Linked DNA regions of Homo sapiens: region 2 is linked to region 1. The links come from fine-mapping of genetic effects on gene expression. A gene starts in region 1. The other region holds a variant in brackets. All regions are shown on one strand. Distances are from middle to middle.

Region 1 (12,205 bases):
CACATTTATAGACAGTTCATTTTCAACAAAGGCACCAAAAGCATACAATGGGAAAATAGCAGTCTTCAATAAGTGCTGCTGGGAAAACTGAATAACGATATGCAGAATGAACTAGATGCCATCTCTCAGCATAAACAAAATCAAAACAGATTAAAGACATCTAACACCTGAAACTATAAAGCTACTAGAGGAAGAAACTGGGGAAACAATCCAGGACATTGGTCTGGGTAAAGATTTCTTGGGTAAGACCTCAACAGCACAGGCAACAGGAGCAAAAATAAACATATGAGATTACATCAAACTAAAAACTTCTCCACAGCAAAACAATCAACAAACTGAAGAGACAATCTAGAGTATGGGAAAAAAATATTTACAAACTATCCACCTGACAAAGATTAGTAATCAAAATATATAAGGAACTCAACTTGATAGCAAAAAAAAAAAAAAAAAAAATCCGATCAAAAAATTGGCCAAAGGTCAGAATACTTGTTTCTCAAAAAACGACATACAAATGGCCAACAGGTATACGGAAAAAATGCTCAACATGGCTAAACATCAAAGAAATACAAATCACACATTACCACAATGAGATGTCATCTCACCTCATAGGGTGGCTTTTATAGACAGGGAATAACAAATACTGATGAGGATGTGGTGAAAAGATAATCCTTGTATGCAGTTGATGGGAATGTAAATTAGTACAGCCACTATAGAGAACAATACTCAGGTGTAGTGGCTCATGCCTGTAATCCCAAAACTTGAGGCTGTGGTGGGAGGATCACTTGAGCCCAGAAGTTCGAGCCAGCCTGGACAACACAGGAAGACCTGTCTGCACACATATGCACACATAAAACCTGTCAGTCACAGTGGCTCATGCCTGTAATCCCAGCTCTTTAGGAGCCCAAGGCAGGTGAATCACTTGAGGTCAGGAGTTCGAGACCAGCCTGGCCAACATGGCGAAACTCCATCTCTACTGAAAATACAAAAATTAGCTGGGAATTGTGGCGTGCGCCTGTAGTCCCAGGCAGGAGAATCACTTGAACCCAGGAGGTGGAGGTTACAGTGAGCCGAGATCATGCCACTGCATTCCAGCCTGGGCAACAGTGAGACTCCGTCTCTAGAAAAAAAAGAGAGGTTGATTCATGGGTAAAATACACAGTTAGAAGAAATAAGAACTAGTGTTCAATAGATCAGTAGGGTGACTACATTTAACACTCATCTATTGTACATTTCAAAACAGCTAAGAGAATAACTTGATTTTCCTGCAATAAAGAAAGGATAAATATTTAAGGTGACAGATATTCTACTTACCCTGATTTGATAATATAAATGCATCAAATTATCACATGTACTCAGAAAACATGTACGTCTATTATGAATCAAAAAACTTTTTTTGAATTTTCAAATAGAGGGTGGGAGATTCTGGGGCCACCATGTCTGTGGGTAAAGATATTCCCTTGTCAGCCAGGCGCGGGTGGCTCACACCTGTTATCCCAGCACTTTGGGAGGCTGAGACGGGCGGATCACGACGTCAGGAGATTGAGACCATCCTGGCTAACACGGTGAAACCTCGTCAATACTAAAAATACAAAAAATTAGCCGGGCGTGTTGGCGGGCACCTGTAGTCCCAGCTACTCAGGAGGCTGAGGCAGGAGAATGGCGTGAACTCGGGAGGCAGAGTTTGCAGTAAGCCCAGTTTGTGCCACTGCACTCCAGCCTGGGTGACAGAGAAAAACTAGTCTCAAAAAGAAAAAAAGAAAAAAAAAAAGATAGATATTCCCTTGTCTGGATCATGTAAAGACATTCCCTACAAAAAGACATTCCCTGCAAGATGTCCCTCCAAGTTACTTCACCTAATACCACCTACCACTAAAAACGAGCAATGAGCCATGATTATGCCATTGCCCTCCAGCCTGGGTGATCCAGCAAGACTCAAAAAAGAAAAAAAAAAAAACTCAGTATGGGGGTTTCTCAAAAAACTAAAAATAGAACTGTCAATAGAGCTACCACCCGTAAACCTCTTGAATTTTGGAGGCAACATATACATTTGTATGTGCTTTAACGCCCCACACAGTTGCCTGTAAGGATTCTAGTTTCAACTGTAGACAAGAGCAATTTCAGGCTGCACTGCAGGCTTCCCAAGCACTTGGTCCACCTGATCCAGCAGACCCAATGATACTCAACGTGTCCATGTTAAATGGCATCCTATTTATTGGAAGCCTCTGGCATACACCAACAGAAGATGTAGAGTAGAGGCCTCTGGTATTCCATAGTCAATCCATGCCCTCTTGTGCAGATTAACTGTTTCTCTTTTGAGAAACAGGTTGTGGTTTGCCACTACCATGCGATAGAGAATGAACAACTAATCATGGGACATGAAGTAACTAAGGCAGATCTGAGTAATTTGAGACTTTCTGGTCCCCAAAGCACGAAGTACATACTGTCAGCCCTTATCAAACAAAGGTTGTCAGCTTCTCCTTTAGGCCAAAAACCCCGAGTTTGTAGGAAATCGCATGAAATAAAGGAATATTTACACACACCATGAGAATCCAATCAGAAATATCTGATTGTATGACTTTCTAAGAGAATGAGTGTTAGGAATAACGCTCAAAATCCTAAGGAAATTGAACACTCGAACAAAGGATTCTTAGCAAAGCAATTTTACTTCTGTGCAGAGGGGTGCCTCCTTGACCAGTTGCCATGAGAGCACACCTGAACAAAGGGGCATGAGAGCCTTTACTCCTGATGCAAGTCCTGCCCCTGTACCCTTTCCCTATTGGCCGGGGTCAGGTCGTACAATCTAAACTAATCCCGGTTGGTGAAACACCTGATTTTTTTTAGATAGGGTGGGCACGTAGAAGAAAAGTGGAGAGGAAGGGGAAGGGATGTCTGTAGTGAGCTAGAAAGTCCTCTTTCTAAGTAAGGAAAGGTATGTGAGCTGGTACTGATAACGCTTTGTACTGTGGCATGCCTGGGCATCTAACAAAGGCAAAAAGGAGAAAAAAGGAGAAAAAGGGGGGGTACTATGAATTAGAGAATAAAAGATTGATGAGATTATTTGAAGAGAAACCTCATCATATCCTCATATCCCACAGTGTGACTCTCCAAAAGTCAATATAATATACAATAATAACTGTTCTAGGTAAAAAGACACTGAAAACATTAACAATTGCAATGTAAAAATCTTGAATGGATCTTAAACCCAAAAACATCCAAGAGCATACGTTGAATCAATGCGGAGAATTTTAGTTATTATAAAAAGCAGACATTAGATGACATTATTATTTTTTATTTAAGTGAAATACTAGTATTGTGGTTTCAGAATGACAGTGCTATTTTTTTAGGCGATGCATTACCAAGTATTTAAAGGTCAAGTATCACGTGTGCAATTATGCTCAATTTACACTCAAATTGTTCACCATAAAATGTATTTACCTGAGGTGAAAGAAAACAAGCACAATGCTCAAAAAGTAAGTGTTCAGGCACAGTGGCTCACACCTGTAATCCCAGCATTTTGGGAGGCCGAAGCAGGTGAACTGCCTGAGCTCAGGATTTCGAGACCAGCCTGGCCAACATGGTGAAACCTTGTCTCTACTAAAATACAAAAAAAAATTAGCTGGGCATGGCGGCATGTGCCTGTGTCCCAGCTACTAGGTGTCAGGCCTCTGAGCCGAAGCCAAGCCATCAGACTCCCTGTGACCTGCACGTATACATCCAGATGGCCTGAAGCAACTGAAGAACAACAAGAAGAAGCGAAAATAGCTAGTTCCTGCCTTAACTGATGACATTCCACCATTGTGATTTGTTCCTGCCCCAACCTAACTGATCAATTGACCTTGTGACATTCCTTCTCCTGGACAATGAATCTCAGGAGCTCCCCACTGAGCACCTTGTGATCCCCGCCCCTGCCCGCAAGAGAACAACCTCCTTTAACTGTAATTTTCCACTATCTACCCAAATCCTATAAAACTGCCCGACCCCTATCTCCCTTTGCTGACTCCTTTTCTGAACTCAGTCTGCCTGCACCCAGGTGATTAAAAGCTTTATTGCTCATACAAAGCCTGTTTGGTGGTCTCTTCACATGGACGCACCTAATGCTAGGGAGGCAGGAGAATTACTTGAACCTGGGAGGCAGAGGTTGCAGTGAGCCGAGATCGCACCTCTGCACCCCGACCCGGGTAGCAGAGCGAGACTCTGTCTCAAAAAAAAAAAAAAAAAAACTACTAGACTGGGTGTGTTAGATGTTCAAGTTTTCCCTAGGATCAAATTTTTCAGAAAAAAATGTCAAAACTACACTTAGTCTAAACATGCTGTTAATAAATTCAATAGATACTACTTTATTACACTAATACTAGAATAATATTCTGATTATAAAGCCTCCATCCTGGCCAGGAGCGGAGGCTCACGCCTGTAATCCCAGCTCTTTGGGAGGCCGTCAGGCGGATTACAAGGTCAGGAGTTCGAGACCAGCCTGGCGAGCATGGTGAAACCCTGTCTCCACTAAAAATACAAAAAAAAAAAATTAGCTGGGCATGGTCCCCATGCCTGTTGTCCCTGCTACTCGGAGGCTGAGGCAGGAGAATCACTTGAACCCAGGAGGTGGAGGTTGCAGTGAGCTGAGATCGCGCCACTGCACTCCAGCCTGGGCGACAGAGCAAGACTCCGTCTGAAAAAAACAAACAAAAGCCTCCATCCTTTCTTCCTGTGGGCCCGTTTTGAAGCTCTGTGGGGGGGTACAGACCTAGGAACTTCAGATAAAGACAACAGCTGTGTATTATTGCCTTTCTTTCTTTTTTGAGACGGAGTTTCGCTCTCATCGCCCAGGCTGGAGTGCAGTGGCAGATCTCGGCTCACTGCAACCTCGGCCTCTCAGGTTCAAGCAATCCTCCTGCCTCAGCCTCCCAAGTAGCTAGGATTACAGGGGACTGCCACCAAGCCTGGCTTTTTTTTTTTTTTTTTTTTTTTTGTGTGTGTGAGACGGAGTCTCCCTCTTTTGCCCAGGCTGGAGTGCAGTGGCGCGATCTCGGCTCACTGCAAGCTCCGCCTCCCGGGTTCACGCCATTCTCCTGCCTCAGCCTCCCGAGTAGCTGGGACTACAGGCGCCCGCCATCGCGCCTGGCTAATTTTTTGTATTTTTAGTAGAGACAGGGTTTCACCATGTTGGCCAGGCTGGTCTCGAACTCCTGACCTCAGGTGATCTGCCCGCCTCGACCTCCCAAATGGCTGGGACTACAGGCGTGAGCCAGCGCGCCCAGCCTGCCTTTCTTTTGTAGAAAGGCTTGTAGCTGGTAACAACAAAAAACATTAAGTCCAAGAAAATAAAATAAGAAACTAAAGGCTCACAGTCTACACGTGTTCATATTTACATGCAGATATAGGCACACCCTAAACGACTATTTTTTTTCCATCAGAAAGTAATGTGTCAAAAATAAGAATAGGACATCAATGCCAGATTCTCAGACGAGACATTTTTAAGCAAAGAAATGGAAGTCAGAGCCCTCTTGAAACCAATTTTCTGCAGGTGTTCACCAGGAACATGCCGGAAACGCCAGGTTCCTGAGGCGCGGAAATGCGGGGCCGGAGCCAACCTGACTGGAACGGCAGAAATCCTTTTACTTTCAGAAAGAAAGAAACTCACAAAGGTTGCTTTCCAAGCTTTTGAAGAAGGGAGCACAGCGGATGAAACCACTCCAGAAAACGCGCGGAGTCGGGACAAACACACTTCCCGACCTGGCTCCTGACTGGGACCCACTGAGCCTGCGGCCTCTAGCCACTGGCCGCGCAAGGAGGACCGACAGCCCCTGGAGAAGAGAGTGAAACGAGGCGGATCGGAGAGGCTCCTGGGCGACAGCACCCAATCGTTCCTTTGCCGCCCCCCGCTATCTCCGGGATCCCCAAGCAGGCGGAACTCACCACAGCCAGGGTGGACTCCACCACGATAAAGGCGAAATGGCACTGACCATGCGGAGCCAGCGCCGGAAAAGATGGCGATTGTGCGCTGACGTCACTTCCGCTCCGAGCCTCGGGCCGGGCGGGGCTCCTGGGTTCGAGTTTCAGCCACATAGGACCCAGTCAAACACAGAAATTGTAGTTTCTTCCCGGGTGGGCGCGGACAGGCCCTTACTTGGGGGCGGTTTAGAGGTGGGACCCGGCTAGCCGGCGGTTCAGGTGGCCGGACCTGCTGGAAGGGCGGGCGTGGGGGATGGGACGCACCCCAGGGGATGCTCCTGCAGAGCTTTTCCCAGGTGGGCACAGTGGCTAAGGCCTGTAAGTCCAACACTTTGGGAGGCTAAGGCAGGTGGATAGCTTGAGTCCAAGAGTTCAAGACCAGCGTGGGCAAAATAGCAACATCCTTTATTAAAATATATATGTGTGTATACATATATATAAAGCTTGTTTGTATACATCTCATGTTCCTAGAGCCTTTCCATGATTCTTCCATATGGATAAAGCTGCCAGTGAATGGCATGGTCTATCTCTTCTATTCAGTCAGGCTTTCTGTAGGCCTTTATTTCTTCATTCTTTATTTTTTAGAACCTGCTGGTTCCATTGCGTTTTCTTTTTTCGTTTTTCTTTTTCATTTTTTATTTTTTTTTGAGACAGATCTCACTCTGTTGCCCAGGCTGGAGTGCAGTGGCATGACCTCGGCTCACTGTAACCTCTGCCCCCCGGGTTCAAGTGATTCTCCTGCCTCAACCTCCCGAGTAGCTGGGATTACAGATGTCTGCCTCCACGCCCAGCTAATTTTTGTACTTTTAGTAGAGAAGAGTTTCACCATGATGGCCAGACTGATCTCGAACTCCTGACCTCCAATGATCTGTCTCCCTCAGCTTCCCAAAGTGCTGGAATTATAGACATGAGCCACCGCACCCGGCCACGTTTTCAATATAATAATATTTTCTGTAAATCTTGATTTTTTTTTGTCTTCATCAAGTATGTATTTCTGGCTGGGTATGGTGGCTTATGCCTATAATCCCAGCAATTTGGGAGGCCAAGGGATCGTTTGAGGCCAGGAGTTTGAGACCAGCCTGGGCAATACAGCAAGACCCCGTCTCTGTTTAAAAAAAATTTTAAATATGTTTTTGTTTTTGTTTTGAGATGGAGTCTAGCTCTGTTGCCCAGGCTGGAGTGCAGTGGCACGATCTTGCTCACTGCAACCTCTGCCTCCCGGGTTCAAGCGATTCTTCTCTCTCAGCCTCCTGAGTAGCAGAGATTACAGGCAGGCGCCGCCATGCCCGGCTAATTTTTGTATTTTTAGTAAAGACAGGGTTTCACCATATTGGCCCAGTTGGTCTCGAACTCCTGACCTCATGATCCGCCTGCCTCACCTTTCCAAAGTGCTGGGATTACAGATGTGAGCCACCACGCCTGGCCAAAAACATGTATTTCTATTGTTATTTTTCTGATCTTCCCACATGGGCCAGGACCACATTTCCTACATTGTAAAATAGCACTGACACCAGACATTCTCCCCAGGTTTATTCAGAAATGTAACATAATCCCAGTAAAAATATTAAAAGTTTTTTCTGGAGTTAGGTACGTTGATACTAAAGTTTATGTGGAAGAATAAATATCTGATAATAACCAAGAAAACAAAAACAAAAGCAATGATGAGCAGCAGATGTTAAAACATACTATTAACAGTTTTCACACAAGGCAAATAATTAAATTATATTAAAATAAAAATAAATAAGACATACTATAAAGCCTCTATAATTAAAACTATGTGGTACTAGCACATGAAGCAGAAACAGACTAATAAAATATCTAAAAACAGACCCAAGAACATGTAGGAATTTGGTTCATAAATGTGGTATTTTGCCAGGCGCGGTGGCTCATACCTGTAATCCTAGCAATTTGGGAGGCTGAGGCGGGAGGATCACCTGAAGTCAGGAGTTCGAAACCAGCCTGTCCAACATGGTGAAACCCTGTCTCTAATAAAAATACAAAAATAAAATTAGCCAAGCATGGTGGTGGGCTTTCTGTAATCCCAGCTATTCGGGAGGCTGAGGCAGGAGAATCGCTGAAACCCAGAAGGCAGAGGTTGCAGTGAGCCGAGATCGCGCCACTGGACTCCAGCCTGGGCAACAAGAGTGAAAATCCATCTCAAAAAAAAAAAAAAAAGGTATTTCAGATCAATGAGGCAAAAAAAGCCATTTGTAATGGAAAGTCTAAGACAGCTGGGTAGCCATCAGAGAAAAGATGAAATTAAATCCATACTTCACAGCATATACAAGAATAAACTCTAAATGGACTAGGGATCTAAATGTGAAAAATAAAACCATATACGCATTCAGGGTGTAAGTGATTTCTTGGCTGAGTAAGGAAAAAGACGTGACCACAAGGCGGCAGTAGCACACAAGCTTCATTTGGGATGTGCTTTGACAGGTAAGGAGTGGCGGGAGGTAGCAAACAGCAAGAGAATATCCACAGGCTTCTACCTGTGGGTCGCTGCTCAGAAAGGGTGGAAAGGAAGAAAGACTCCCAGAGGAGAAGGGGAATCAAAGAGGGGGCTTATATGACTAAGTGACGATGCTCAGCAGCCTGGCAGCATATCTTCCAGTTAAAAAGTTCTGAAGGACAAGTCTGGCCAACATGGTGAAACTCCGCCTCTACTAAAAATACAAAAATTAGCCGGGCATGGTGGCGGGCGCCTGTAATCCCAGCTACTCGGGAGGATGAGGCAGGAGAATTGCTTATACCCGGGAAGCGGCGGTTGTATTGAGCCAAGATCGCGCCATTGCACTCCAGCCTGGGCGATAGAGTGAGACTCAGTCTCAAAAAAATAAAAATAAAATATGTAATTATCTGTTCATTCTGAGTACAGGGAAACACTGATAGGACTATCCTGAAAATAATAAGATTCAGAATCTATCGGGGATAGATGGGAAGGGCTTGAACAGAATGGTGGGATAAGAACAAAATGGAGAGGATAGGGATAGGGAAACCTCTCTGAGCATATCATTCTGTTTAGTTCTGATGTTTAAAATCACATTCTACTTTTTTTTTTTCTTTTTGACAGGGTTTCACTCTGTCACACAGGCTGGAGTGTAGTAGCGTTATCATTGCTCAGTGCAGCCTTTACTTTGTGAGCTCAAGTAATCCTCCTGCCCAAGTACCAGGGAATACATATGTACACCACCACATCCAGCTAATTTTTAAAAATATTTTGGGTAGAGAAGAGATCTCTCTATGTTGCCCAGGCTGCTCTTGAACTTCCAGTCTGTCACATATAAAGTTTTGGTGCCACAAAAGAAATAACACTTGAATATAAAATTTTCTTTTTAATTCTCAGCAAGGCAAGATACTTCTATAGAAGGGTGCACTCTCACAGATGGAGCAATGGTGGGCACACACCTGGACAAGGGAGGGAAAGGGGTTCTTATTCCTGACACACGTGGTCCCTACTGCTCTGTCGTTCCCCTACTGGCTAGGGTTGGACCTCACAGGCTAAACTAATTCCGATTGACTAATTTAAAGAGAGTGATGGAGTGAGCGGTTTGGGAAAAGGGTGCTTTATGAGGAAGTTAAGTTTAAAAGTAGAAGGCAAAGAATTGAGCATACTGACATATTAATTCTTTGAAGAGAAATTTATAATTCATTTTCAACAACTTCCTCCTCTTGCATTTTTTTTATGGCTTTCTCTTCAAACTTATTTAACATGTCTTGACTTAGTTGTTCTGCTTGATTTTCCAAAAGAAGGAGCTTCTCTGGATAAGGTGGAGGATAGTTAAAGGAGGTTTTAGTAAGTGCCATTTCTATGAGCCTCTGCACCAACCTACAGATGCATGGTATGACACGGCACCTGACAAGGATAAGTACACCCATTACGGCTACAAGGGAGGTGAGAATTGAGGCTATTATTCCTTTCCATTTACCGAACCACTTTTCTAGCCATTCTGTAAATGGGTAATTTACCCCTGAATTGCTGGCCAACTCATTGGATAGAGGAGTCAGGCCTTGCAATGCCTTTCTTATACTTCCATTAGGGGCCGTGTTGTTTGGGATGAAGTTGCAACAATGAGTTTTAATAATGATGCAAACTCCTCCTCTTTCTGCTAATACCATGTCTAAAGCTATCCTATTTTCCCAAGCCATCAGGTTAGTAGCCCCCAATTGCTCAGCTATTCCTTTAACAGCATCTCTAGTGTAGTTAATAAATCGCTGTTGGTTGTAATAGATGTAGTTTACCCAATCTACATTTTTTTTTTTTTGAGATGGAGTCTCACTCTGTCACCCAGGCTGGAATGCAGTGGTGCGATCTTGGCTCACTGCAAGCTCCGCCTCCTGGGTTCATGCCATTCTCCTACCTCAGCCTCCTGAGTAGTTGGGACTACAGGCACCTGCCACCATGCCCGGTGAATTTTTTGTATTTTTAGTAGAGACAGGGTTTCACCGCGTTACCCAGGATGGTCTCAATCTCCTGACCTTGTGATCCGCCCGCCTCGGCCTCCCAAAGTGCTGGGATTACAGGCATGAGCCATCGCGCCCGGCCCACCCAATCTACATTTTTATTAACTGTCGCCTACCAAAATATTGACTTAAATCCTGCAGCTATTGGATTTTGGGCTTTAAATTGATCTGGTATTCCCCGTGGGACTCCAATTGCATCTAAATAGCCGTGAGAGTTGAAAGACCTATAACGGGCTTGTCTTGCTTTACGAAGTCTTATCTTTCCTCCCTCTGGTTGCTGAAATGCCAGGGTGAAAGGGATAGCCAATTGGACTAAAGCACAAGTGCCACTCCAGTTATTCAGCAGAGTGTCCAGTAAAGGTCCACCACAATACCACCACACATCCGCTCAGGGATGAGCAAGGGCTGACTGATTGGTAAGCTCTTGAAAGTTCTTAAGCTCACTGCATCCCTTCAGGTCTCCAAGGAACACTAAGTTTCCTCTCTGTTGTGAGAGACACGAAGTGAACTTAATGTTGGGAGATGGAAGCTGGATGGCCCTCGGGGGCTGACCAGCATGTTGTTGAACTTCAGGATATAGCAGAGACAGAGAGTCGGCATGACTCTTTACCCTAGGCTGTAGAATCCTGGAAAAGAGTTACCATGCAGCCCATGCCCGGTCTATTGGAGAACCACCCTAGTGGAAAGGGGACAATCTGGGCCTCTGGCCTGCTGTGCGCACTAGCATAACAATTGCTTTTGTTTAACATGCGGATGGAATATTTGATCCATTCCAACCAGGTATTTACATCTTGGTATCCTGTCTCAATTGCCAAAGTTTAAGTCTTTAACTTCTACCATCGCTATCATGGCCTTGTCCTTAGATGGAGGAGGAACAATGGTTCCGTTGTGAGAGGTTTTGGAAAAAGGCTAAGAGGCAGGTGCAGGCAGCGGGAGATCAAAGAAACGCATTTCAAAGAATCCAGTAGGGTCTGTCCTTGAAACCTCAGCCCCTATACCATAAAACCGGCTTAAAGAAAGGAACTGGCTTAGAAAAGGAGAACTTTGGGGCTCAAAATACTAACCTGTATAGGGTTGCACTGGTTTGGCTGACAGTTGGGGGGGGCTGTCCCTTTAGTAAATGAATGTATGGTTTTAGGAAATTCCAAAAACTGGTTAGGGCAGTCCATCCTTGCTCTTTGGTGGTCCACAGAACGTTGGACCAACTACGGCATAAAAGCTCTACATCGGGGGTTGGGGTCAAGACTCCTGGTTTCCACTGGGATCTTTATGGAAATCTCCCAGATTAAATGGTCCTAATTCACTAATGCCCAGTCTGAGGAGAGCCAGGAGGGACAGAGGTGCTTTTCTGAAGTAGTGAGCTGCCTTTGACTTGACAAATCCCCACAGGGTATAACAAGGCAAGCATTAAATGCAACAGTTTGAGGCAAAATTGACTTGGTTATGTTAATAACTAGATGGTCAGCAACAGAGCGAGGAAAGAAGAAAGAGTAATAGAATAGATGAAAGACAGTTAAATTCTTCTTAGCTTTAGTTTGGTAGGGTTTTCCCCTGGGACTATGGCCCACCACTCTGGAGGTGGTGGCGCGTTCTTGACTCTGGTGTGATGAGTCCATCCTCTCTCTGCCGTGCGGACTGCGGTTTCAGTAGTGAGGAGCAGTAAGTAATGAGATTCCCAGGCTGGCTCAGGCTTCTCCTCTTTCCAGCTCTTGATGAGGACATGATCCCCAGGCTGATGATGCACTGGGAACTCTAAGGGTGGCACCTGTGCTAATAGACCTTTAGTTTTAAG
Region 2 (9,749 bases), 25 kb before region 1:
TAAGAGATGGGCTTTCATCATGTTGCCCAGGCTGGTATCGAACTCCTGAACTCAAGTGATCCTCCCACCTCAGCCTCTCAAAGTGCTGGGATTCAGGCATGAAACACCATGCCCAACCAACCAGGTTTTTTTTTTTAAGTGATAAAAAACTTAATAAAGGCAATACAGGAAATTATCTCGATAATTTCTTGTAAAACCTTTCTTAGACCAGCTACCAAAAAGGTAAAGAAAAACCTTCTACAGTGTGATTATTTCTCCTTATGCAAAGTGCATTTAGATAACCTGGAAGTTGGCCAGGCATGGTGGCTCACACCTGTAATCCCAGCACTTGGGAAGCCGAGGCGGGTGGATCACTTGGGTCAGGAGTTCGAGACCAGCCTGGCCAACATGGTGAAACTCTTTCTCTACTAAAAAACACAAAAATTAGCCAGGGGTGGTGGCACACACCTGTAGACCCAGCTACCAAGGAGGCTGAGGCAGAGAATCACTTGAACCCAGGAGACAGAGGTTGCAGAGAGCTGAGATTGCGCCACTGAACTCCAGCCTGGGTGACAGAGCAAGAATCCATCTCAAAAAATAAAATAAAAATAAAAATAACCTGGAAGTTGAACGTGATGAAAAGTGTGCTTGGATTTAGTTAGGAATATGTCCAAGGCTATGAGTGTAAAAATTTAGGTACATCAAGAAAAGCCGAGAGTACAGAATCAAGTTATACAGAGCAAATACATTGCTTTTCTAGGCCTTCATGATAAATATTTCAGTGTCAGGCCATAATAGCCGATTTAGAACCAAAGAAAAAACTTACAGGAGCAGACAAAAAAGTTGGAGACAGTCATCATCCCAGACCTTCTCAATGTGAAAAAAAGAAGGCAATGATGTATGACCTGCAAATGACATACACTGAGATGCAAGTAAAGTTGAGCCTCTGAGACATGAATGAGAAATCTGAAAAAACAAAACTCTACCTCAACAAATTGGCTGGTTTTGGTTTTGGTGGCTCGTTCCTGTAATCTCAGCACTTTGGAAGGATGAGGCAGGAGAGTAACTTAAGGCCAGGAGTTTGAGACCAGCCTGGGCAACATAGCTAGATGCCATCTTTATTAGTCTGTTCTCGCATTGTTATAAAGAAATAACTAACAGTGGGTAATTTATAAAGAAAAAAGGTTTAATTGGCTCACAGTTCTGCAGGCTGGACAGGATGTATGTTGCTGGCATCTGCTTGGCTTCTGGGGAGGCCTCAGGAAACTTACAATCATAGCAGAATGCAGAGGACCAGGCATGTCACATGGCCGAAGCAGGAGCAGGAGAGAGGGGGAGGTGCTACTCACCTTTAAACGACCAAATCGAGTGACAAGAACTCACTCACTATCTATCACGAGGACAGTACCGAGGCAGGTAGTGCTAAATCACTCATGAGAAATCCACCCCGCCATGATCAAGTCACCTCCCACCAGGAACAACCTGTAACATTGGGAATTACAGCTGAACATGAGATTTGGGTGGGGACACATATCCAAACCACATCATCATCTCTACAAATTTTTTTAACTGTATGAAATTCCACCTCAATAAATAAAATTACTGTTTTAAATGATGAGGACAGCATTTAAAACCTGAAAACTACAGAAATTAAATCGATCTCAGGAAAAAATGTGGCCGAAATAGAAACTAGAGTTTAGAAGATGGCTACTAACAGATTTTAGAACGAACAAACAAAACGTCTTGCAAATTTATTAAGTGCAGATAAATATGTCAAAAAAAAACACACCTTCTTGTTTTCAATATAGAGGACCAGATTCTGGTCCTGTATCAGTGCACCCAACACCACTGTTTAATTTTTAGGAAAAAAATATCCTATGTACAATTTCTTTTCAATCCTAGCCAACACAATCATACAATAAACTGTCGGTAAGGCTTATCTTTTATAAATCCTATTCAAATTGTTTAGACGTTTAATCATTTTCTTAAACCTTCAGTCTTAGACTTACAGTTTTCTCCTTTTATATTGGTACAACCAATCATTTTACCTTAGGACAAAAATTTACCACATAAGATTCTCACACAAAAATTACTTTTTCCTAAATTTGTATTTGGAGTAATAGACCAAAATATATCTACTCTTTTTAGAAATTTTAAGAAGCCAGCTGGGCACGGTGGCTCATGCCTGTAATCCCAGCACTTTGAGAGGTGAAGGCAGGTGAATCACCTGAGGTCAGCAATTCAAGACCAGCCTGGCCAACATGGTGAAACCCCATCTCTACTAATAATACAAAAATTAGCCTGTCATGGTTGTGGGCACCTGTAAACCCAGCTACTCGGGAGGCTGAGGCAGAATTGCTTGAACCTGGGAGGCAGAGGGTGCAATTAGCTGAGATTACACCATTGCACTCCAGCTGGGTGATGAGTGAAACTCCGTCTCAAAAAAAAAAGAAAGAAATTTTAAGAAGCCAAGAATGAATATATATTTTTTCAGTAATTTGTTTGCCTTATATCTTATTTGGATATGACCCAGATAATTAATATTATTTAAGATTTTAAATTACATGAAAAGTTTATTTATAAACATTTATTCCATTTACAGTTACCTTTAATTTCTAATTACACCTAGATTACTTATTAAGATTTGACACAGCTAGTCATTGTTTTAAATTATTTTTTATTAACCAATTTTATATCCTGTTAATATTGTTTACCAAAGTTCAAACCCTACACTAAATACATGGTTATTCTGTCAATAACTCAGAAGATATAGCTATTGTTATTAAATCAAAAATATTAAGTAAATCTCACTTATAAAAGAATTGCACAAAGATCATTGTTTTAGATTGGGTTTAGCTTCATGAACTTAAAGTATCTAATAGAGACAGACACAACACTGTCAGACCAGTAAACCCAGACAAAAATATATGCTGACAATTTTGAAGACATATCTAATTTTATCGACAACTTTAAAACCAATTAATTTATAAAAGAATTGTCATGTGAACTTAAAAAAAATTGTGTTCATTTTTTTATGAACACATTTTTTTTGATCTGCCCTCCTCGGCCTCCCAAAGTGCTGGGATTACAGGCAGGAGCCACCATGCCCAGCCTGATTTCTGTAGTTTTATAGTAACTTTTGACATCAGGAAGCATGAGTTGCTCTTTTTTAAAATTGTTTTTAATACTGGGGCTCCAGTTATGTGTGGGCTTTCATAACCTAATTTCAGAACTGGCTTACCAGAACTTCTGCCATATTCTGGTGGTTACACATATCAATCATAGTACAGTATGAGAGGATTACACAAGGGTAGTCCTCAAATACCAGGAAGCAGAAACTGGAGGCCAATTTGGAGGCTGCCTAGCACAGAGAATTTGTCAATGTCTAATATACTACCTATTTAATCCAGCAATCCTAATTCTAGGAATTTGTCCTGAATGTAAATGCCTAAATATACAAAAATACACATGCTCAAGAATACTAACTGCATCCCTGTTAGTAATTGCAAATTTGAATTCTCTAATTGATGACATGTAGTAGAGCAGCTGAATATTACATGGTACATCCACAAAAGGAGTATTATGCAGCTACAGAATGAAGGTGAAAAAGGAAGATATATCTATGAATTTATATGGAGTGGTTATCAAGATACACTGTTAGGCAAAAATAGAAACTGCAAGAGTATAGTATGAAACTTTTTTTTTTTGGAGACGGAGTCTCACTCTGTTGCCCAGGCTGGAGTGCAGTGGCGCCATCTCGGCTCACTGCAAGCTCTGCCTCCCGGGTTCATGCCATTCTCCTGCCTCAGCCTCCCGAGTAGCTGGGACTACAGGCGCCCACCACCACGCCTGGCAAATTTTTTGTAGTTTTAGTAGACAGGGGGTTTCATCGTGTTACCCAGGATGGTCTCGATCTCCTGACCTTGTGATCTACCCGCCTCAGCCTCCCAAAGTGCTGGGATTAGAGGCGTGAGCCACCGTACCTGCCTGAAATCTTTTTTTAAATGGGCAATAACAAATATATATATGTTCATTTTTGCTAGAAGAAAACACAGGATTATTCAGAGAAAAAGGTTCATTACCTATAGCTGATGGGATAGGAACAGGTTGTAAAGGACAGTGAGATTAGAACAGACTGGAAAGGATAAGGCAAGAAAAACGTTTATGTTTAGTTCTAATGTTTAAA[G/A]TATGCAATTAGGTGGGCGTTGTGGCTAATGCCTGTTACACCAGCACTTTAGGAGGCCAGGATGGGAGGATCCCTTAAGACCAGGAGTTTGAGGCCAGCCTGGGCAACATTGCCACATCCTGTCTCTACAAAAATTTAAAATTAGCCAGTCCTGGTGGTGCACGCTGGTAGTCCTACCTACTCAGGAGGCTGAGGGAGAAGGACTGCTTGATCTCAGAAGTGTGAGGCTGCAGGGAGCTATGACTGCACCACTGCACTCCAACCTGGGTGACAGAGCAACACCCTGTCTCAAAAAAAAATAAGGGTAAAAAATTTAAAAACTGCCTGCACCTGGTGGTGCATGCCTGTACTCCCAGCCTCTTGAGACACTAAAGTGGGAGGAGTGCTTGAGCTCAGGAGCATAAGGCTGCAGTGAGGTACAATCATGCCACTGCTCTCCAGTCTAGGTGACACAGCAAGATCCTGACTCAAAAAAAAAAAAAAAGATAAACCAGTATAAAATAAAACATACTATTGTTTCACATATTAATTTTTTTGGGACAGTCTCACTCTCTAACAGGCTGGAGTACAGTGGCACAATCTCAGCTCACTGCAACCTCCACCCCCAAGGTTCAAGCGATTCTTCTGCCTCAGCCTCCCAAGTAGCTGGTATTACAGGTGGGTGTCATGACGCCTAATTTTTTTCTTTGAGACAGTCACGCTCTGTCACTTAGGCTGGAGTGCAGTGGTGCAATCTTGACTCACTGCAACCTCTGCCTCTGGGGTTCAAGCAATTCTCCTGCATCAGCCTCCCCAGTAACTGGAACTACAGGCACCCACCACCACGGCCGGCTAATTTTTCTATTTTTAGTGGACACGGGGTTTCCCTATGTTGGCCAGGCTGATCTTGAACTCCTGACCTCATGATCTGCCCACTTAGGCATGAGCCACCACACCCAGCCTTTTATTTATTTTTTTTGAGACAGAGTCTCACTCTGTCACCCATGCTGGAGTGCAGTGGCACGATCTCGGCTCACTGCAACCTCCGCCTCCCGGGTTCAAGTGATTCTCCTGCCTCATCCTCCTGAGTAGCTGGGACTATAGGCGCCTGCCACCATACCCAGCTAATTTTTGTATTTTTAGTAGAGATGGGGTTTCACCATATTGGCCAGGCTGGTCTTGAACTCCTGACCTTGTGATCTGCCTGCCTCGGCCTCCCAAAGTGCTGGGATAACAGGCATGAGCCACGGCACCCAGCCGCCTGGCTAATTTTTGTATTTACGGTAGAGACAGGGTTTCACCATGTTGGCCAGGCTGGTCTCCAACTCCCAGTCTCAGGTGATCCGCCCACCTCGGCTTCCCAAAGTACTGGGATTACAGGCATAAGCCACCATGCCTGGCCTGTTTTACATATCTAATTTAAAAAAAAATCGACAAGGATAACGGTGTGACACAAAATGGAAAATTAACAGGAATTACTGAAATGAACTTTGTATCAAATGGATAAAAATTCAACAATGAAGAGGGGGGTAAAAAGCACAAAATTGACCCAAGTAACTTCTTTTATTACAATTTTTATTGTGATAAAAACACATAAAATTTACCCTTTCACATACTTTGTGTGTACCGAAGAGTATTGTTAACTATAGGCATATTTTTATACAACAAATCTCAAAAAGCTTTTCCATCTTGCGTGGCTGACACTCAATACCCATTGAACAACTCATTTTCTCCTCCACCAGCTTGTGGCAAATACCGCAGTACTTTGTTCTTCTGAGTTTGACGTTAGATACCCCATATAAGTGGAAATGGGTGTATTTGTCCTTTCGGAACTGGTTTATTTCACTTAGCATAACGTCCATGTTGTAGCATATGGCAGAATTTTGTTTTTAAGGCTAAATGATATTGCATTGTATGTATATAATGCATTTTGTTTACCAATTCATCTGTCAATGGACATTTACTTTGCTTCCACCTCTTGGCTCTTCTGAATAATGCTGCAATGAACACAGGTAGGCATTCACACATTGAGATGCTTTCTTCAGTTCCTTTGGACATGTACCTAGAAGTGGATTGCTGCTGACCAAGTAAGTTTTAAACCTAGTGCTTTTATATTACGCCCTGAGCTAAAGATAAGAACTGTGAATAAAAACTGAATTCTGGTTAGTTGATTTTTAAAAAGAGTGGTATGAGTTATCAATTCTGAGAGTAGCTTATATTTTAATCTAGGATTGAGCACGTGCTATTTTTGCAAGTGATGAAAGATAGCTACAGACAAGGGAATTTGGAAAGCAAGAAATAACCCAGCAGTGCTGCAGTGGAATTAAAAGTGTTGGCTTGTGGTCATGTTTTTAATATAGAAATAGAGTTATTAATGTGTGGATACGTATATATAATTTTGTATGTCTTTGCCATATCCTCCATAGAGAAGACCTAAAAGCCAGGGCACTATTACCTAGGAACACCTCCCTACACAGAGACTGCAGCTTCTAAATAGTATTCTCCATTAAAATAAATTACATTTTTCTGAGTCTAGGGCTGGAGACAAATGTACCATGAACAAACTGTTGCCCAGAAAATAATTATATACCCATGAAATAAGGAGAATACATTTTTAAAGATTCAGAAGATAGCTTGATGGGGATCCTACTTATTGAATCTGGAAAAATATGTGCATCAAATTTACAGTAGCTAACTACACCCCATAGATTAAGAATTTATGATACATGCTCCTACAAGTAAATGGGTAAATAAATGAATAAGGATAACTCTTCCTTACAAAATTCCAGTTAAGAAATGTAGAAGAAACTATGGAATTAGAAAATCACTTTTTGGACTGGGTGTGGTGGCTCACACCTGTAATCCTGGCACTTTGGGAGGCTGAGGCAGGAGGACTGCTTGAGCCCAAGAGCTTGAGACCAGTCTGGGCAACATAGTGAGACCTCGGCTCTACGAATAAAAAAATTAAGTGGGTGCGTTAGCATGTGCCTGTGGTCCCAGGTACTCAGGAGACTCAGGTGGGAGGATCGCTTGAGCCCAGGAGGTCAAGGCTATAGTGAGGCATGATCATGCCACCGCACTCCACACCCTAGGCAACAGAGCAAGACCCCAATGCAGACCAAAAAGAAAAAAAAAAAAAAGGAAAAGAAAACCACCATTTGGAAACCACTACAGCAACAGCTACAGACATACCTCATGTTACTTCACTTTGCTTCATCTCACTTTACAGATATTTTTCACAAGTAGAAGTCCTGTGGCAATGTCATGTCGAATAAATCTATAACACCATTTTTTCCAACAGCATGTGCTTACTTTGTCTCTCACATCCTGACAATTCTGACAATATTTCAAACATTTTCCTTATTATTATACTTACTGTGGTGCTGTGTGATTTTTTTTTTTTTTTTTTTTTGAGAAGGAATCTCACTCTGTCACCTGGGCTGGAGTGCAGTGGTGTGATCTCAGCTCACTCTAACCTCCACCTCCTGGATTCAAGTGATTCTCCTGCCTCAGCCTCCTGAATAGCTGGGACTATAGGTGCCTGCCACCATGCCCGGCTAATTTTTTGTATTTTTAGTAGAGACGGGGTTTCACCATGGTGGCCAGGCTGGTCTCGAACTCCTGACCTCATGATTCACTCACCTCAGCCTCTCAAGGTGCTGGGATTACAGGTGTGAGCCACCGTGCCCGGCTGCTCTGTGATCTTTGATGTTCCTATTTTAATTGTTTTGGGGTACCACAAACCACAACCTTCGAAGACAGCAAACTTAACAAATGCTATGTTCTCACTGCTCCACCAACTGGCCACTCTCCCCTCTCTCCTCCTCTTCCCAGGCCTCCTAATTCCCTGAGGGACAATATTGAAATTAGGCCAATTCATTACCCCACAATGGCCTCTAACTGTTCAAGTGAAAGAAGGAGTTGCAAATTTCTCACTTTAGATCAAAAGCTGGAAATGATTAACCTCAGTGAGAAAGTCATGTCAAAAGCCAAGATAAGAGCCAGGTGCAGTGGCTCACACCTGTAATCCCAGAGTGTTGGGAGGCAGATAGGGGAGCATCACTTGAGGTTTTAAGTTCAAGATCAGCCGGGTAAACAGTAAAGTCCTGCCTCTTTAAAAAAAAAAAAAAAAAAAAAAAAAAATTAGCTGGCCATGGTGGTGCACACCTGCAGTCTTTAGCTACTCAGGAGACAGGAAGATCACTGGAACCCGTAAGTTTGAGGCTGCAATGGGCTATAACTGTACTACACTCCAGCCTGGGCAAAAGGGAGACCATGTCTCAAAAAAAAAAAAAAAAAAAAAACTGGGATAGGCCAAAATCTAGGCCTCTTGTGCCAGTTAGCCAAGTTGTGAATGTAAAGTTCTTGAAGGAAACTAAAAGTGCTACTCCAGTGAACACACACATAATAAGAAAGGAAAACAGCCTCACCACTAACACGGAATAAGTTTTAGTGGTCTGGATAGAAGATCAGACCAGCCACAACATTCCCTTAAGCCAAAACCTAATCCAGAGCAAGGCCCTAACTCTAATTCTATGAAGGCTGAGAGGTGAGTTAGCTGCAGAAGAAATGCTGGAAGCTGGCAAAGATCAGTTCGTGAGGTTTAACAAGTCATTTCCATAACATAAAAGTACAAAGTGAAGTAGCAATTGCTGATGTGGAATCTGCAGCAAGCATTTCCAGAATATCTAGATAAATGGCAGAGGTAGCTCTACTAGAGTTTTAACAGAGACAAAACAGCCTTACTTCAGGAGATGCCATTTAGGACTTTCACAGCTCTAGGTAAGCTAATATCTGACTTCAAAGATTCAAAGGACGGGCTGACTCTTTACTTTGTAGAGACAGCGTCACGCTCTGTTGTGCTGGCTGGTCTTGAACTCTTGACCTCAAGTGATCCTCCAACCTCAGCCTCCCAAAGCACTGGAATTACAGGTGTAAGCCACTTTTCCCAGCCTGGGCTGGCTTTCTTGTTAGAGGTCAATGCAGTTGGTGACTTTAAATGAATGCTAATATTCAATTACCATTCCAAAAATCCAAGAGCCAGTTAAGAATTATGCTACATCTACTCTTCCTGTGGTATCTATTTACATCTATTTACAGCATGGTTTACTGAATATTTTAAGCCCACTGTAAAACATACTGTTCAGAGATTCCTTTCAAAATATTACCACTGATAATGAACCTACTAACCAAGAGCTCTTATGGAGGTATAAACAAGATTGGCGTTTTCATGTCTGCTAACCGCAGCCCATGGATTCTGGAATAATTCTGACTTTCAAGTCTTATTATTTAAGAAATACATTTCATAAGGCTATAGCTGCCACTAATAATGCTTCTTCTGAGGGATCTGGATAAATTAAGTTGCAGACCTTGCAGAAAGGATTCTCCATTCTAGATGCCATTAACAACATTTATGATTCATGGAAGGAGGTCAAAATATCAACATTAAGGCAGGTGTGGTGGTGTGTGCCTGGAGTCTTGGCTACTCAGGAGGCATAGGAAGGAGGATCACTTGAGGCCAGGAGTTCAAGGCTACAGTGTGCTCTCATCGTGCTGGTGAATACCCACTTGTACTCCAGCATGAACAACACAGCGAGACCTTGTC

Evidence for each region.
Region 2: its variant is fine-mapped to the expression of ZNF121 in whole blood (TOPMed, PIP 0.94).

The regions. Positions count from the first base shown.
Region 1 is chr19:9,578,548-9,590,752 of GRCh38, forward strand. ZNF121 (zinc finger protein 121) reads right to left here and starts at 5,957. Exons shown (of 4, transcript NM_001008727.5): 1 at 5,914-5,957. LOC105376914 (a long non-coding RNA gene) reads right to left here. Exons shown (of 2, transcript XR_936311.3): 2 at 11,922-12,192. RefSeq lists enhancers at 3,095-3,908, 3,909-4,721, 5,536-6,347, 10,888-11,534.
Region 2 is chr19:9,554,627-9,564,375 of GRCh38, forward strand. It overlaps ZNF121 (zinc finger protein 121), which reads right to left. Exons shown (of 4, transcript NM_001008727.5): 4 at 5,703-9,749. Among named protein-coding and RNA genes, the nearest start is that of ZNF426-DT, 21 kb to the left of the region's middle. The variant G/A (reference allele first, on the strand shown) is at 4,166.